Linked DNA regions of Homo sapiens: region 2 is linked to region 1. The links come from fine-mapping of genetic effects on gene expression. A gene starts in region 1. The other region holds a variant in brackets. All regions are shown on one strand. Distances are between the middles of the regions.

Region 1 (5,367 bases):
TTGAGCTCTTTCATGTCCTCCATTCCTCACTCAGTTGACACGAAGGCACTGGGGCCTGAAGGACACGGAACAGGTGAGGCCAGTCCCCCTGCTTGAACAGCTCTGTGTAGGAAAGGAGATGACTCCCTCTCCCCTCTCCCCTCTCCCCACGGTCTCCCTCTCCCTCTCTTTCCCCGGTCTCCCTCTGATGCCGAGCCGAAGCTGGACTGTACTGCTGCCATCTCGGCTCACTGCAACCTCCCTGCCTGATTCTCCTGCCTCAGCCTGCCAAGTGCCTGCGATTGCAGGCGTGCGCCGCCACGCCTGACTGGTTTTCATATTTTTTTGGTGGAGACGGGGTTTCGCTGTGTTGGCCGGGCTGGTCTCCAGCTCCTAACCGCGAGTGATCCGCCAGCCTCGGCCTCCCGAGGTGCCGGGATTGCAGACGGAGTCTGGTTCACTCAGTGCTCAATGGTGCCCAGGCTGGAGTGCAGTGGCGTGATCTCGGCTCGCTACAACCTCCACCTCCCAGCCGCCTGCCTTGGCCTCCCAAAGTGCCGAGATTGCAGCCTCTGCCCGGCCACCACCCCGTCTGGGAAGTGAGGAGCGTCTCCGCCTGGCCGCCCATCGTCTGGGATGTGAGGAGCCTCTCTGTCTGGCTGCCCAGTCTGGGAAGTGAGGAGCGCCTCTGCCCGGCCGCCATCCCATCTAGGAAGTGAGGAGCGTCTCTGCCCGGCCGCCCATCGTCTGAGATGTGGGGAGCGCCTCTGCCCCACCGCCCCGTCTGGGATGTGAGGAGCGTCTCTTCCCGGCCGCGACCCCGTCTGGGAAGTGAGGAGCCCCTCCGCCCGGCAGCCGCCCCGTCTGAGAAGTGAGGAGCGTCTCCGCCCGGCCGCCCCTACTGGGAAGTGAGGAGCCCCTCTGCCCGGCCACCACCCAGTCTGGGAGGTGTGCCCAACAGCTCATTGAGAACGGGCCAGGATGACAATGGTGGCTTTGTGGAATAGAAAGGCGGGAAAGGTGGGGAAAAGATTGAGAAATCGGATGGTTGCCGTGTCTGTGTAGAAAGAAGTAGACATGGGAGACTTTTCATTTTGTTCTGCACTAAGAAAAATTCCTCTGTCTTGGGATCCTGTTGATCTGTGACCTTACTCCCAACCCTGTGCTCACTGAAACATGTGCTGTGTCCACTCAGGGTTAAATGGATTAAGGGCGGTGCAAGATGTGCTTTGTTAAACAGATGCTTGAAGGCAGCATGCTCGTTAAAAGTCATCACCACTCCCTAATCTCAAGTACCCAGGGACACAAACACTGCGGAAGGCCGCAGGGTCCTCTGCCTAGGAAAACCAGAGACCTTTGTTCACTTGTTTATCTGCTGACCTTCCCTCCACTATTGTCCTATGACCCTGCCAAATCCCCCTCTGCGAGAAACACCCAAGAATGATCAATAAAAAATAAATAAATAAATTAAAAAAAAAAAAAAAGAGTCATCACCACTCCCTAATCTCAAGTACCCAGGGACACAAACACTGCGGAAGGCGGCAGGGCCCTCTGCCTAGGAAAACCAGAGACCTTTGTTCACATGTTTATCTGCTGACCTTCCCTCCACTATTGTCCTATGACCCTGCCAAATCCCCCTCTCCGAGAAACACCCAAGAATGATCAATAAATACTAAAAAAATTAAAAAAAAAAAAAAAAGGAAAGGAGATGAAGCAGACCACAGAAAGCTCCTGCACAACATGAGGGTGGCCCAAAGAGAATGCCAGAGATCGGAGGAGGAGCAGGGCCAGTCCTGTGGTGTTCCGGGGAAACGTCACCTTGCAGGGGGCGTTTAAGGAAGGGGGAAGCCACCCATGGGCAGGAGAGCATTTCAGGCCCAGGGAAGAACACGCTTTCATGGAGATGGAGAAGCAGGAAGTATGTTTATGGGGAGGTGGGAGCCTCTTTTGCTTGACAGTGGGATGTGTGGGAGGCACCAGCATGAGAGGTCAGAGGCGGGACTCCCCAGAGGTAAAAGACACTGCAGCTCAAGCCTTGTGCTGCCCGGGGACCCGGCAGAACGGACAGAAGGGAGTGAGCAGGAGCATCCTTCTAGGGGCATCCTGAGTCCAGGGGGTTCTTCTACACCCACCCCAGTCCTGGCTGTGAACCCCTCCAGCAAAGCAGGCAAAATGGAAGAGGGACATAGGACACGGTGATATATCGCTAGCACGGTGCTTCATCTGTCTACAGGCAGTGGACGCAAAGGAAGGGGGATTTAGGGTTCGTGCTCCAGGCTGGTGGGGCCCTGGCTCCCCTCTAGCTTGGTCCCTGACTCACTTGGCCTTCAGATCAGCCACTTCCCATCTCTTAGGATATCAATTTTTCTGACTTGCTTTGTCCTGATTGGTTAAGAAAGAGGCCTCCAAGTTCTTGAATGACAGTCTCTTCCCTTCGCATGCCTGACCCATCACAGATAAGAGCAAGGAGCCCTGAGAAGCCAAGCTCGTCCCTGGCACTGAGAACGGTCTGCAGGCTGCTGCTGCAGGCTGCCCTGTGCCCAAACTCCCAGCCTGCCAACTCTGGCATTCTGCTTCCCTAAGTAGTCCTGGCGTCGGGTGGTCAGACCCTGAGGCTCAGTGACCTCTGCATGACCATGTGATCCCTGGCTTTGTGGGGGCTCAGGGCCCTTTCCTGTAGGGTCATCTGGCACATGGACATGCCTGTGTACCCTTCTTTCGTATGACCGAGAGAAGGGTTCGGTTTTTCCTTCTCTCAGGCAGGATGGGAGACTCTGCCTCGCATGTCTCTAAAACAGGAGAAAGACCAGCTTCCCAGGGGGGCCTCCATCGGAACAGAAGTCAGCCGCTTGCTCTGTGTCTGCGCCTGTCCCTCTTTCCCCAGATGGAGGGGAAGAGAGGAGAGAGGCACAGAAGACAGGTGCAGCCGGGGGGGTGAGGGAGAGCCTGGAGGCGCAGGATGGAAGATGGAGGTGGTGGTGAAACCGCTTTCCTCCTCCCTGTGGTCGGCAGCGATTCATCCACAGGCGCCTTTTTCCACTGAAATGTGAGCGTGGCCAGGGTGAGCGCTGCCCTCGCGGCCGGCCGTGGTGCCTCTGGTGTGCGCCTGTGTGTGCTGCTGCCGCTGTCATCACAGATGCACCCCAGCTGTCACTCCCCGCTCCACTCTGGCTCGCTGCTCGCGCACACGCGTGCGCTCTCCTCCCTCGCCCCTTTCTTCCCTCTCTCCTCTCTCTCTCTCCCTCCATCCCTCTCTTTCCTTCTCAGTTTGTGACTGACCCAGCAGCCCCGTCCCCCGTCTGCCACAAGCAGTCCACCTCCTGGTGCTGTGTGCTGCGTGCCAGCCGCTGCTCCCGCTGAGTGGAGACTCTGGCACCAGTGCCCACTGCGCTCTGCCTGCCGGTGGTGTCTGGATTTCTATAGGAATCCCAGGAGGGTCTTACTGGAGGGTTGAGAGCCACCTGATTGAAGGCGTTTGCAGTCAGAGTAAAGACGGGTGAGTACCGAGTGGCTGGTAGGAAGGAATGGAGGGTTGGTGGGGACAGGGGGTGGTCGGGGCATGGGAAGTGGGCACCGGCCATCTCTGCCCTGCAGGAATAGCTGCAGTTGCTTCCTACCTGCAGGCAATTGCTGGGGCCGAAGAAGCTGCTCGGGCTCAGGCACCTGAGCATCCCAAAGGTGCACGACACTGGGAACTCTGAGCCCACAGTGCTGGGGACAAGAGCTGTGGATTCTGCTGGGAAGTGGGGAGGAGGGCAGCGCTGGCGCCAGATGACAGTCCCGGGTGGCATAGAAACCGGTCCCTGCAGCATGGGAGAAGCAGCCAAGAGCCTTGTGCTGTCGTTGTGCCCGGCTCTGCACAGACAGCCCCAAGAAACTCGGGGGTCATGGGAAGCGGTTGGGATGGCAGTCAGGTGCTGGGGACAGGGCCAGGTCAGAGGAAGGCTTGGGGTGGAGGGTGGCAGGGAGGAGGTCCTGGATGTCAGAGGCATGGGCACAGACCCAGGTCCTGGGCCTCCCTATAGCTTGCCTGCAGGTGGCTGTCCTTGGACAAGGGTGTGGAGGAACCCTCCCCCAGATGAGCATGGGCCCACTCAGCTGTGCATGAAGCCTCCCTGGTGAGGGTGAGGCTGGGAGTGGGCAGGAGAGAGAAGTATCGCAGCCCTTCCCTGCTAGCCCAAGGGCAAGACAGGAGAACCAGGCCCGCGAGAACCTGCTGGGGTGTCCCGCAGCTGTGCACCCAGCCGTCCATCTGCAAATGGGTCAGGGAGCCTTAGTGGGGGCTGGACACTGAGCTTGGGTGGGGGGTACACAGCGGGGCCAGGCCTGCCTGGCTTCTTGACCCACACAGGGGGCATGGACACCCTGAGTAGAGCGGGACAGTTGCTCTCAATCCCCCAGACCCATTTGGACAGTGCTGGAGAGAGGAGCAGCCTGACCAGGAGTCGGAAGTTCACATTCCTGCACCTCCCTGCAGGTCTGGGGCTGGGTTCCAGTTGGCGGCCCTGTCTCTCCCCCACCCCCAAGCTGTCCACATTTCTGGGGGGTGTTGGCACCCGGCTGTCAGGGCTACTTGGGCAGTGTCTCTTTGTGACTCAGATGACACCCCTGCAGCTTAGATAACTGCCTCAGGTGGGGGCGGGGAGGGAGCCGAGCACGTGGAGCTGAGGCGGGGGAAGTCCAGCTGGTAGGGAAACCCGACAGCAGCTTCCGAGCTGCCAAGAAGAGCCCAGCTTTTCCCACCCCCACCTCCCCACCGGCAGAAAGAAAGTCTCAGCACTGCCAAAAGAGGGAGACCAGGAAAGCCAGGCCCGCGGGGAGGGGTAAGGAGAGAGGCTGCTTAAGCAGCCGATCTGGTGTCTTTGGGGTTTGACAGAAGCTTGTCTGGGCCCACGAGGAGCAAACTCTGCTCCCGTTTCCCAGGCACCAGAGCCCAGGGGCCGCCTCTGGGCTGCTATGGCCTCAGTGGGCAGTGTAGGAAGGAGGAGGGGATGGCATGTATGTGATGGTTGGGGGTGTCTGGGAGTTCTGGGGGTGGGCAGAGGAGAAAGGAGCCAGCATAGAGGCTGTCTGCCCCTCTGGTCTTCCTCCTTTTTCCCCCAGCCAAGCCTCCTGTGCCCTGCCTGGGAATACCACCCTGAGCCCAGCCCCAGGGACACCACCCTGAGCCCGGCCCCAGGGCCCAGTGGACACCTTAGCCTCCTTCATGTCAGGGACCAGCTCCCATGAGGGGCCACTCAGGAGGCTTCTCTGTTCTGCTTCCCAGAGGGTCTGTTTGAGATTGAGAATATTTGACAAGGAAACGGGGGTGCAGGAGGCTGGGGGTGAGGATGGGGCATGTGTTTTAAAATGAACCAGGAGGGTATATGGCTGTTCCAAGTACAAATA
Region 2 (5,367 bases), 120 kb after region 1:
TTTTCTAAGTGCTCTCCCACAGGCACCCACATCACCATGCAGCTCACGGGCGTACTGAGTCTCATCTGCACGGAGCCCCTCACGTGTGAGGCATCATTTTATTATTTTTTATTATTGGCATTATCAATTTCCTTATCTCATAAAGAGAGGAACAGACTCCCGAGGGGGAGACGGCCACATCCTGCTCTGTGAGTGGCCATACAGAAGCTAGAGCCCAGGTCCCTGGGCCCCGCCTCCCCTCCGCAGGACACTGCCTCTATGCACCTGGTCACAGTCAGACAGGGCAGGGTGCCCTGCTGGCAGCCAGGCCCGGGCAGTGGGGAGCAGAGGGCAGAATCCCTCACGGAGTCTCTGGTCTCTGGAAGGGCTGGACGGTGCTTTGCCAGCCGCATCTCTCGCCAGTCTGTCTTTCGAGTTCCAGAACACCGAATAGCTTGTATTCTACCCACTTCCCACCCAATCACACACACACAACCCCATACACACACGCACACATGTACACAGACACTATTGCTGCTTCTTGCCTTCCTGTCCTGGCTCATGCCATCTCTTTTGCCTTAAACTCCTGCTGCCCCCTTATTTTGTCAACTCTTACCCACCCTTTGAGAACCAGGAGAGGCATCACCTCTTCCTGGAAGCCTTCCCTGGCCTCCCATTTGCACGTTAAGTGATGGCCCTCACAACGTCATCTACAGTAACTCTCCTTCCCACTGGTCTGTGAGATCCTCGGGGCCTGGGCAGGGTCTTACTCATCCCTGTGTCTCCAGCGTGGCATCCGATGGGTGGCGGCCATCCACACACAGGCTGGGCGCTGCACCGCCGGGCAGAGCTCCTTGTCCTTTCAGGACCCGTTATCTCAAGATTTCCTATCAAGCCACAGTTTCCCAGCCTCTGTGCATGCTGGGAAACCTCTGTCTATGCAGGAGGGAATAAAATCTAAGGAACAAGTGACCCTGGAGAAGTGCTATGGGCAGAAAATATAACAACACCAAAAATAATTTTGGACCGACTTATGACGGAGCCGTAAGTGGCGATAAGAAAAGCTGGGACACACCTGACCCGTGAGGCTGATGGGGGAAGGGCCAGTTTTGCCTGGCACATCCCACAGGGCTGCCATCCAACGTAGAAAACGCCAGTGTGGAGCATGCGCGGCTCTGGCCCAAAGCAACCATTGCAAGGTTCCTACGACTGACACCACAGAAAATCCTTTCCCCTTGATACTTATCTGGGTGGCGAAAGAGACAGGAGGTGGTGGGACTAGAACCCAGAGCTTTCTGAGTGCAGTATTCTCTACACCACATCACACAGGATGAGGGGCTCCTGACAGCCTAGATCTTGGGACTGCCGCCTTGGTCTTTTGAGCCCCTTCAATTGTGTAGGTACCAGGTGTGCCTGACAGGTGGAGGGAGGAGCTGGGGCACTCACAGAACTGTGTGTGTGCACGGCTGGGTGGGCTGCAGCTCCCGTCCTGGGCCAGGAGAACGTCGTCTTGGAGACGGGGCCCTGCTTGTCCCCCAGCATCTCTAATGCTGAGAACTCCCACCCGTCCCTCACATGTCTGTTTCAGTGTCTGCCGACCTCAGCAGGACGCTTTACCTTGGCTTCTCCCTAGACATTTGGCGCCTTTCATCTTGGCCCTCAGACTTTTAGAGAAATTCTTAGACTTTGGCTTATGACTGTCTGCTCTCCCACCCTTTCTCTTGCCCACTTAGTACATATTTTTACCTCCTTCCTGCCGTGCCCTTAGTTAACTTGTCCGAGGCTTGGATTTCTTTCTTCTGCCTCCCTCAGAAGCCTGGGCTGCACAGCTTGGGCTGCTAGCTGGCGCGGGGCCACGCGCCTGTCTGTACTGCCCAGCCGCCGGGAGTGCCAGTCACCCAGTGCTCTGCTCTCCTCCCCCCCAACAGTCTGCACACGCAGTTTTTATTTGTGTACTTTTCTCAAGGCTCTAAGCTGTTGGCAGGCATTACTCATGACTCAATTTAGTGAACATCTATCTAGATACCCAAGGTTGAGTTAAATATACCAAGTATTTGTAACCACCTCCCTCACTCCTCTAATTGTAAGAGGGAGTGGGGTGCAGAGCATCTGAGATCTGAAAGCCAAGTGTTCAGCAAAATGCTGGGCAGGCTCCCCAGCCTGCGCGGCCACGCACCTTTACACCACGCCGCGCTGCCCCAGCCTGCGTGCTGCAAACGACGCATTTGACCTCCAAGATGACTCCACGTTCCAAAGCCTGCAAGGCAGGCTGATTTCTTGGAGAAGGGAGGAGGCGGCACATGTCTGAATAGAGCAGGCCCTGTTAGAAAACAGAAGGCTTCATTGCTAATAGGAGCGAGCGACCAATCTGTCCACATTAATCCAGAGACATGGTTCCTAAAACTGCA[C/G]CCAACACTCCGCCCCTCCCCGCCCCACCTGCATCTACACTGACAAATGGAAACTGAGCAAAGCCTGGTGCTCAGAGCACTCGTTTCTAATGTGCCCCTCCCATCCTTGGCACCACATACTCCAGGGAAGTAGGCCTTAACAAGGGTGGACTGTTGGTCTCTCTTTATACCTGAGAGAACCAAAGAGGGCTGTTACTCAATAGTTGAGATTTCTTGAGGTGGAAACGCACTTTCAGATTTTCACCCTTCTCATTCAAGAGGAAGAAAGCAGGTCTTTCTGTCCTTTCTGGGTCTGAAAAGGGCAGGCAGGCTGCTGGTGTCTGAGGGAAGAACAAACTTACCAAATGCAACAGATCTGTGATTTCCAGGGCAATCCTTCAGCATGCGATATTTTGTTGTTGTTGTTGTTTTGTTTTTGTTTGTTGGCCCAGGGCTTACCTCTTAAAAGGGCTGGCAGAAGCCAGTACAAGGGGGCTATGTGTATCAGTAGGGCTGGGTATGCACACCAGACAGTTCTAGAAGATGCTAACAAAGGTTTCTCTCACTCTGCAATTATCACCATGTCTGGCCTTCTGAAGGGGGAGACCGAGCAGAGTGTTTCTTTTCAGAAGATCCAGGAAGTACAAATCCTATCAAATAGCACTGCCTTCTCCCGCCTTGCAATTAAGGTGGTGCTTTACCCATAACGGCAGGGGCAAGAACAATACCGACATGGTATGTTACAAGTAATATACTGCTGGGTATGTGGACCTCTTAAAGAGCTGTGGCACTTCCTTCATAAGGAAGGGAGAAGTGTTACTGTTTTCATTCCATTGATAAGGAAATGAGGGGGAGAACGCGGTAAAGCAAGGCGGCCACAGATCCCTAAGTGCCAATGCCAGGCTGAACACTCAGGTCCTGGTAGATGGCAAACAAAGGCCGGCCCAGCAGCTGCGGGCCTCTCCCAACAACTGGAGCATGGCCCCCGCACCACAGTCATGGCACAGAGGGGCTGTCTGCCATATGTTGCTCCCATTTAATCCTCATATGGACCTTGTGAGGGTCTTTCATTTTCTAAGTGAGAAAACAACATCCCAAAGATGTGTTTGTTCAGGAGTTGAAGGCGGATCTGTGTGACTCCATAGCTGGGTGCTCTTCCCCACACCGGACGGCTCTGGCTTCTGGAACGTCTACCAGGCTGAAGCCCACTGCACTGGATAAGGCTGCCTCTACGAACAGAAATCTCAGGGCTGCACCTGAGATTCAATCAGGTGAAAACTGCTGCCTGGGAGCCAGTGGCACCTAAGGAGTGGCGTCCATGATGTTCTCAGAATTTGGGCTGAGTGGGAAGAAGAAAAGCCCATTTATTTATGAAATCTAGCTTTGGGTGCCTTAGATAACCCTTTTGATCTATTTCTTGGACTCACTAGAGAAAGTCCTTTTGTACAAAGACACTCTCATCTGCTTTGCTGTATAGAAGAAATAAGCACTCCATCACCAACTGCCCTTTGAAGGGTGACTTCGTCTTTGGTCTAAATGAATTGGGCCTGTCCCTTTCAAAATGATGTATTCCAGTAAAGGATGGAGAATTTATTATTTTTCAAAACAGATGACTGTGGTGTTGACCTAGAAAGGCCCGACTGAAGCCTGCAGGGCAGGTCTGACCATGCTGGGCTTGGGTTTGTTCCCCCGTCGCATCAGAACATGGGCACCTTCTCACATTAGGTACGGCAACTGATATTCTTTCTGTTTTATTTACTCGGTTCTGAAGCAAAAGAATAAATATTTCATGAAATTAGCCATTTGCTACTGCAAATACGTTAGGAACATTAAGTATGGAATTCATCTCTCCTTAGCTAGCGAAGCAACTCTAAACATGTAATTAAGATCAAAGATACATTGTTAAGGTTGCCAGCAGTTAATCAGATCATTGATTTTGCCCCATTTTTGTGCATGTATCGCTGAGGCAAGCACTACGATCACTGACTTTGAATCCAGCAGTTAATCAGATCATTGATTTTGTCCCATTTTTGTGCATGTATCGCTGAGGCAAGCACTATGATCACTGACTTTGAATAACAGATCCAAGTGTGTCTCTGTCCTCGCCCTGTTCTCCTTATAAGAATATTGAGATACCATATATGCAATTATTAATTTCAAGTGTTTTGTGAAAACTTTGCATGGTTTATCACTATGTTAGATGTTGTAGGAGATACCAACGAAACAAAAGAACTCACCCCTTCCTAAATGTTGGAGGGTAACACAGCAGACTCCTCGCCAAGGTCTGGCACATAACAGGGGTTCAGTAACAGTCAATCCCTTTTCCACCCACCCTTTCTCTTCACAAGAAAAAGCACCCTCCTGCGGGAGAGTAGGGGAGGTGGTGTTCTAACAATGCTTTCACTCGATGCTGTGGCTGAACAAAGGTCTAGAGCTTAAAGTCCAAGCCCAGGTCTCAGAAACGGTAGGGAAACCTGTTTTCCTCACGCTTCCATTTTATGAACTATAAAATGAGAATAAAACACCTGTCGGCTGTGCAGTAATCGAAGATCTTTTTATTATCCGAGAATAAGAAGTGCTATTGAAACGCAAAGCTTTATTTATTACAAATACTCAGCAGGGACGAATTCCCATAGATACTCTTAACAACTTGGCAGGGGCTCTTCTGACTCCTTCCAAGATTAAGCTCCTCATCTCTGCGAACATAAAACTCGATCTGCTACACAGCTTGCAGATCATGACGCCCTGAACATCACAGTGACAATCTCCTGTGCCCTCCGCCTCAGCGTGTTCTGCTAAGGGTGATATACTATCCATTCGGAAGCTTAGGCGGGCACATCCTGCTGCTTCATGGGCTGGGATGGATGAAGTGTTGCTGGAAATCTGGGCCATTTGTCAACTCCTAGAACATCTATCCTCTAGAAACTAGCTATAAATACCTTTAGAAATAACTTCCTTCAAAGGATTGGGTAAAACATGCCAACTGGGTTTTTACAAATGA

The links. PIP is the estimated chance that this variant, and not a neighbour inherited with it, causes the effect.
Region 2: its variant is fine-mapped to the expression of LRTM2 in cerebellum (GTEx, PIP above 0.99).

Annotation. Positions count from the first base shown.
Region 1 is chr12:1,817,340-1,822,706 of GRCh38, forward strand. It overlaps LRTM2 (leucine rich repeat transmembrane protein 2), which reads left to right and starts at 3,226. Exons shown (of 5, transcript NM_001039029.3): 1 at 3,226-3,475. The region is part of intron 26 of CACNA2D4 (calcium voltage-gated channel auxiliary subunit alpha2delta 4); the gene reads right to left. It overlaps LOC105369601 (a long non-coding RNA gene), which reads left to right. Exons shown (of 5, transcript XR_931546.3): 5 at 1-1,467. RefSeq lists an enhancer at 2,796-3,542.
Region 2 is chr12:1,934,729-1,940,095 of GRCh38, forward strand. LINC00940 (long intergenic non-protein coding RNA 940) reads right to left here and starts at 1,848. Exons shown (of 2, transcript NR_036546.1): 1 at 1,726-1,848. The variant C/G (reference allele first, on the strand shown) is at 2,388.